Linked DNA regions of Homo sapiens. The protein of the gene in region 1 purifies or fractionates together with the protein of each later gene. This does not show direct contact. Each region holds a gene or a part of one and is shown in the gene's direction. Other genes may lie near its edges.

Evidence for each region.
Region 2: the proteins of FBXL16 (region 1) and DAAM1 purify together in Homo sapiens (co-immunoprecipitation; 3 studies listed by BioGRID and IntAct, with this or other methods). This does not show direct contact.

Annotation. Positions count from the first base shown.
Region 1 is NC_000016.10:699,302-702,801, reverse strand, and holds part of FBXL16 (F-box/LRR-repeat protein 16), read left to right. Parts: intron 1-3,500. UniProt on the Homo sapiens protein: Substrate-recognition component of the SCF (SKP1-CUL1-F-box protein)-type E3 ubiquitin ligase complex.
Region 2 is NC_000014.9:59,328,167-59,331,666, forward strand, and holds part of DAAM1 (disheveled-associated activator of morphogenesis 1), read left to right. Parts: intron 1-2,334; coding exon 2,335-2,522; intron 2,523-3,042; coding exon 3,043-3,342; intron 3,343-3,500. UniProt on the Homo sapiens protein: Binds to disheveled (Dvl) and Rho, and mediates Wnt-induced Dvl-Rho complex formation. May play a role as a scaffolding protein to recruit Rho-GDP and Rho-GEF, thereby enhancing Rho-GTP formation. Can direct nucleation and elongation of new actin filaments.

The DNA of each region.
Region 1 (3,500 bases):
GCTCTGTGTATTGCAAGGCCCACCCCAGCCCTGGGGTCTTGGGAGCCCTCTCAGTGACTCAGGTACCAACCTAGTCCCAACCCCAGAGGCCACTCTCCCCGCGGACACTGGCCATGGCACGATCCGGGTTAATTTCCCGAGCTGTGCCTTCCCCGCTGACCGGCCTCTTCCTAAATTTGACCAATCCTCCATCAGCCCTCCGGGGGCCTTGGCAGCTGCACCCCTTTCTGCGTGACTGAGCTAGCGGAGCCACATTCCGCATTCATTCATTCGTTCCCTAATTCATTCATTCCGCGAACATGCAGAGGCCATGCACGTTGGTGCTGTCTGTCCTCAAGAGTCCTCAGGCCAGGAGGAGAGACACCAGGTGGACAGTGATGATAACCCATGTGATTGCAAGACCCTGGAGACGCTTTCTCAAGAGCTGGGGGTCCCGGAGCAGGAGGCAGGGGCGACCTCGCACCAGGAACTGAGGGATGGAGGAGAAGAGCTTGCAGGGCTAAGGCAGGGAAACCCTGCCAGGCAAGCAGGGGGAACGGCGTGTGCCCAGGCAGAGGAGCAGGGGAGGAGGAATGGCATGGCTGGGCTGTGGCATCAGGGCTGGGAAGGGGCCGGAGCTGAGGTCTCCGGGCTCAGTGACTTGATTCGCAGAAGAGGCAGCTCCTGCGGGGCCCCCACATGGCCGTCTGGGAATGGTCAGCCTGGATGCTGTACATGTACATGTGGGGACCCCCAGGAGCACCCAGGCCCCACCGTGCTCCCTAGGCTCACTCTGGCCACACGCTTCACACTGCGTCCCCTGGGGAGGACACAGAGGCCACGGCCACCTCTCCCCAGCAGCTCCCAGGCCAGGCTCAGGCTGCTGAGGACAAGACAGCTGAGGTGGGGCCACCTCTCTCTCTTTCCCCTGGGGTGAGCCCCGGAGCCTTGACAGGATTCCACTTCAAGCTGAGCCAGCACCACAGGGGCTGAGGCTGAGGATGGTGCAGGCATGGCCACCTTTTTAACAAGTCTCTTCCCCGTATTAGCACCCGGGCTGCTTGTCCCTAAAGGGAGAGGCAGTCCCTAGCAGCCCACGCAGGTCGTCCGAGCCCCTCTGGGTGGAACGAGGGCTCTCACAGTCGCCAAGCAGGAAAGGGGGCTCTGTGAGCCATGGGAACCGGCTCCTTGGTGACCGTCTGGCTGGGTGGGTGGGGCCGGGCCCAGGGCCAAGCAGAGGGGCCCTTGTGTGAGCCCCCAGGGACTTCTCGCTGAACGGGCAGAGAGACCCCAGTCTCCAGTTGAGCTCAGCTTTCTCCCGCAGCGCCCATGCCTGGGCCAAAGTGTGTGGCTGTTTGCATTTTTGAGCTACGGGGTGGGGGATATTCGGGCTGAGTCAGTCAAGCCGGGAGTGTGAGGAGCAGCGGGGGCCGGCAGGAACGTGGACGCGAGATTGGGGAGCAGTGGGGCTGCCTGTGCGGGGATGCAGCTCCCACCAAGCACACGGGTCGAGGGCTGACCACAGGCAGAGCAGCGCCTTCTGGCAGCGCTGCGGGTGTGGATGAGGGAAGCCAGGCCCCGGACCCATACCCAGACGGCCGCTCCTCAGCCTGTCCCCTCCCTCCTGTGGGCTCTCAAAGTGCGGCTTGGTTTCTCCATCTCGACCCTGAGGCCTGGAGGTGGGGACGGGACTGTGGGCGCCGGCAAACGTGAGCTCCCGAGCGGGGCGGGAAAGGAGCCCCGCGAATGCCTCCCCCAGCCCCGGCGCTCCACGTGCAGGCCCATGACTGGGAGCGTTTTCAACCTAAATCGGCACTGCGCCGGGATTATTCCTCCCCTGGCGCCGCCCCCGCCGCCTCCTCCGGATCCTTCCCGGCTTCTCCCCCACTCTTCGCCCCCGGGGCCCCTCCCTGCTGAGCGGGGGCTGCCGGGATTTGGGATTGCGGGGCTGCCCCGACCCCGCAGCCGTCCGCGGTGGAAGCCAGCCCGGGCCTGGCCCTGAGCGCGCGGCTGGGGCGGCCGCTGTCCATGGTGCTGGCGCGGGTGGCGCGCCGGCCGGCGGGGTCTGCGGAGGCCCAGGCGTCCCTGGCGGGGAAGGCGGCGCTTCCGGGTCTGGGGAGCGAGGGTCCCCGCTCTAGGGGCACGGAGGATATTTAGACTGGGGCGCCCGTGGGCCTGGTGCTGCCGCCTCGGGCGCCGGCATCCTGCGATATCCCCTCTCCCCGGCTCTGGGAGGGAACCGAGGCAGCCCCGCGCCAGGCCTCCCCGGACACCTGGGGCAAATTCGCTCCTCAGAGCCTCGTGTTCCTTCCCCAAACCTGAGGTAGCGACCCCTCCACCCCTAAGGGCGGCCGTGAGGTCGAATCATGTGCCGACCCCAGCCGGCCCTTGCAAACGTTGTGATGTCGGCCTCCGGAGGCCGCGCCTTCTGATCATGGGCACATGATGGGGGTCACCGGCTGTGGGTGCCTCCTCTGTGGAGGGCCCGGCCTCACCTTCCAGGACCCGAATGATACTCTGGGGAGGGGGAGATGGTACAGAGGGTGGAGCTGGGGCTCCTGCCATTAGGGCAGGAAGGACTTTAAACCCAAAGCTGGGTTCTCAGCCACGAGGGCCACGTGTTCTGGCGAGACCCCTGGTCCCGGCTCCGGTCTACACCCCCTCCCCAGATGTGGACCGGTGGCAAGGCTGGCCCTGTCTGGGGCTTGGAAGCCAGTGTGGGGACCTGCTGCTGGGAAGAGCGGGGCAGGACCTCCCACTGCCTCCCTGCCTCCCTGCCTCCCCTCCCCCCTGACCAGATTATGGGGAATGGGCTGCGGGCCTTGGGGTTGCAGTGCCGTCCGAGACCCCGCCACTCTCTGTGGTGGAGCAGGCCAGGCCCTGTAGCCCCAGAAGGGACACTCAGCCAAAAAGATGTGAGCCATCCTCTTCCTGAGAGTCTGCATATTGCAGGGCCCACCCCAAGCGTTGGAATCTTCGTGGGAGACTCTCAGACACCCCCTTGGTGGCTCCAAGAGACCTTCCAGTGAGGCTGTGGCAGGAGGGGGCAGGGTGGGCTGGGAGAGGCTTTGGCCCCTCCTCTGAGATTTTGGGGCAGGAAGGCAGGACCTGCATGAGGCTCCAGGCTTAGTCCTGGAGTCACCTAAGACCGGGGAAGATGCATCTTGCTTTGCCCTGGAGTGTGGCCGTGGGGCTCAGACATCACTCTCCCAGACCTTGCTATGAGCCACGCACTGAGCTCGTTCACTTTGCAATGCCCCAAGGGAGCAGGTACCGTCACCTCCCCAGGCTTCAAGGTGAGGAAATTGAGGCTCAGAGAAGGGAAGTGGCTTGCCAAGACCACAGAGCCAGGGTGGGGCCCATTTCAAGTCCAGGGCGTGTGACCCCAGGGGCTCTACCTCCTCCCCGGATGTCGGGGTGGGGGCGGCAGGAGATCCGAACTGTGGAGCAGATGGTGGCACAGTGAGGGTCCCACCTCTGCTTCTTTCCGTGGCTGTGCCCAGTGCCCCCTGCCACCCACT
Region 2 (3,500 bases), on another chromosome or scaffold:
CCACTGAGCAGAAAAGCAGGGCCATAACTGATATCAGAAAATACCAATTGTGAACTAACTACTGTTATGTTACGAGTTCCTCATATGTATTCAGATTGCTCCCAAATAAGTGACATTGCACATGCATTTTAAAAAATAAATTTCAGAAACTGCTACAAAAATGATAGAAACATTGACTAAAAATCAGGGTAAAGAGATTAAACCAAAGAGAAAATAGTCAATGAGTGGATATTTTAGGAATACACTCTAGAGCATGGAGACTCAAGTGTGCAGGTTGAGGAGAGCACTTAGGATGTAAGCTTTCGAGTCATTCATTCATTCGTTCATTCAGTGAATACCTGTTGAATGCCTGTATGTGTCAGGCACTGTGCTGAGCTCTGGGTCTGAGTCTCAGCTCTCCCCCTTTCTCACTGTGTGGATGGGCTAAGTGATTTCCTCTCTTCTCCCCCAGTCTCGACCTTTGCAACCTGAGGATTAATCCTGACTCACAGCGTGGTTGTGAAGATTAAATGACAAAACAAATATAAGATCATTAGCATAGTGTCTGGCACATACTAGTTGCACAATAAATGATAGCCACTGTTGCAGGATTTAGGTGGCTGAGATGGTACAAAAGAAAATCACCAATGTCAGTGGGAGGAACAGGTTGTTTTAGTGTTTTAAAGTGAAATGATGGGTAGAGTCTAAAAGAGGAAAGATTATAGTTAAATGTTAGTTTTTTTCTAGAAGCTTCAGGTGGCAAAATTGTATTCAAGAGGGCATATTTTGTTAAAATAGTCCAAGGGTAGAAGTGATAAGGAGACAGAAGTTCTGTGGACCTAAAATGTAGAGAATATTTGGGGAGAATTCTCTTTAGGGCAGCACACCCAGGAAGTGCTCAATAAAAGCTTAGTGACTGAATGGTAAATAGATACCATTTGTGGAGAGAGTCATTTAGGCTGGAGCTTCCCAAACCTGGCATACATCAGGATCATCTAAGCCCTGTAGTCGACCTACAAAATAGACTTCTTGGAATAGTGTCTGGGGAGTCTTGAAATGCTGAAAGTTCTCAGGTAATTCTGAGACACAGCCAGCTTCATCAAAAGCTAATGACCAGTGAGAGGAAGGCAAGTTTCTAGTCCTGAAATTGTGAAAGAAGAATGAAATGGAGATAAAAGAAGGAAAATGGGATATAGAGAGGTCATTTTTGGATGTATTTCTGGAGAAGTTAGGGAGGCAACAACAGAGTGGTAGAAGTGGATTGCTGACAAAATCCAGGGATTTTAGTGGCTTGAACTCCTCTCTGTAAACTCTAATTTGGGGGAACTCAGGAGAGAGAAGGTCAGAGACAGAGAAAACAAGAATTTAAATGTGTTAGCAAATTCAGAAATAGAGACCAGCTCTATTAGTATAGCTCGGCCCCAGTGGGTTATACCTCTAGTGGATTTATTGATATAAAAAGAATAGGAATTGGGGACATGTATTTGAAATAAAAATCCGCAGCCTAAACTTTGTTAGTTCTCTTTTCCAAAACTCATCACTCCTTTCAGCAAGCTTGTATTCATTGGCAATGTGAATATGCATTATGCTGAATTGGATGCCCTGTTTTATTATAGCAGGATTGAGGAAGTCAGTAAAACTACAGCTAAGAGTCAATATTTTTCTCCCCTGTGTTACCATGATTTTCGCGTTCTACTGACCCCACTCCCCTTAAGATATTTAATACTGAGATGATAACATTTGCTTTCATATGCCTTAATAATTGTTTACTGAAAGCATAAAATACTTCAAGTAGCCTTCTGAGGGGAGATGGGAGAAGTGATTCCATCTGGGGACAAACCCTGGGTCTGACAGCAGCTCTTCCTCACAGGTGAGACCCTCCCTTCCAGCCCTTCGGCTGGTTGGATGTGAGCTGGCAAACCTAATTCATAAAAGCTGAACTACTCTTTGTCTCACTTCTAATTTGTGAAAAGAGGCCATTTGAATATTTATTTTTTTCCTTGTATTGCTAAAGGACCATTTTAATGACAAGATTCTGAATCAACTACCAAACAGTTACCATTCTCCTCCACAAGAAGTCACTCAAACTTTTGTTCTGTGTTTAGAACTGTGAGTGTAGGCTCTCTTCTTCAGTCTCTTACGTAGTTAATAATAACATTGTTCATCCGAAGCCCACTCCAAGCACAAACATCATTTAGCCTTTGAGTTGCTCCCTTTGATGGAGAAGAGGAATAATATTTACCTAATAAAGATCCTCATAATCTCTGCCATCATCCTCAGTCAATTTTCTTTTAGAGAAAATGCTTCAGCTTTGAAGACTCTCCTGTTTTCATGTCCAATTGTTTTCTCGTGTAGAGCACAATGAGCTACAACAGAAACTGGAAAAGAAAGAACGAGAATGTGATGCTAAGACTCAAGAGAAGGAAGAGATGATGCAGACCTTAAATAAAATGAAAGAGAAACTTGAAAAGGAGACTACTGAGCATAAGCAAGTCAAGCAGCAGGTGGCGGACCTCACAGCACAGCTCCATGAGCTCAGCAGGGTGAGGTCTTCCGCTCAGCTCACGGGCAGCTGCCAAGGCCTCACTGACCCTAGAGCCCCTCACCCTTAAGTAGAGAACTTCATACTGGGGGAATAAAATCTGAAATGGCTCATGATTCATCACAATTAGGAGACTCACTCCCTCTGCTATCATGTAGGCAGCAGAGGCTGTTTGGGGGTGCATTTTTAAATACTGTACAAATCTAAGAGCAAAGGAAATTGCATTAGCTTCTTAAAGTGAAAACTGACTTCATGAAAACCAGACTGTCTGTGATGGTGCAAGAAGTGAGAGAGATATGAATGCATCCCAGACAAGTACTTGAGTGTCAGGTACAAAAGGTTGATGCACTGGAGTCCATAAAGGCCCAAAAGAGTCCATTCGACTTTACCGATCCTTTAAACATTCTCAGAAGGGTGAATTTCTCTATAATAAACATTTTAGGCCAAGTTACAGACTCTTAAATCATTCAATGAATTTACTTCTTCCATTGATCTTTCTTTTCCTATTTTTATCTTTTCAGAGGGCCGTCTGTGCTTCAATCCCAGGTGGACCCTCGCCTGGAGCACCAGGAGGGCCCTTTCCTTCCTCTGTGCCTGGATCTCTCCTTCCTCCCCCACCACCCCCACCTCTACCAGGTGGGATGCTTCCCCCTCCACCGCCTCCCCTCCCTCCAGGTGGCCCTCCTCCTCCCCCAGGGCCTCCTCCCTTAGGGGCAATCATGCCACCTCCTGGTGCTCCAATGGGCCTAGCACTGAAGAAGAAAAGCATTCCTCAGCCCACAAATGCCCTGAAATCCTTCAACTGGTCTAAACTGCCCGAGGTGAGCCATTTGTTCCAGTTTTCCCTTTAATGGATAGCATTAGCAGCTCATTGTGTTATCACTGAAAGGGAAAACAGCCCTGGCTGTTAAATGATTTCATTTTCTAATGTGGACCAAGAGTTCTCACTAGCTCAGATATTTAAGTGATAAAGCTTCTG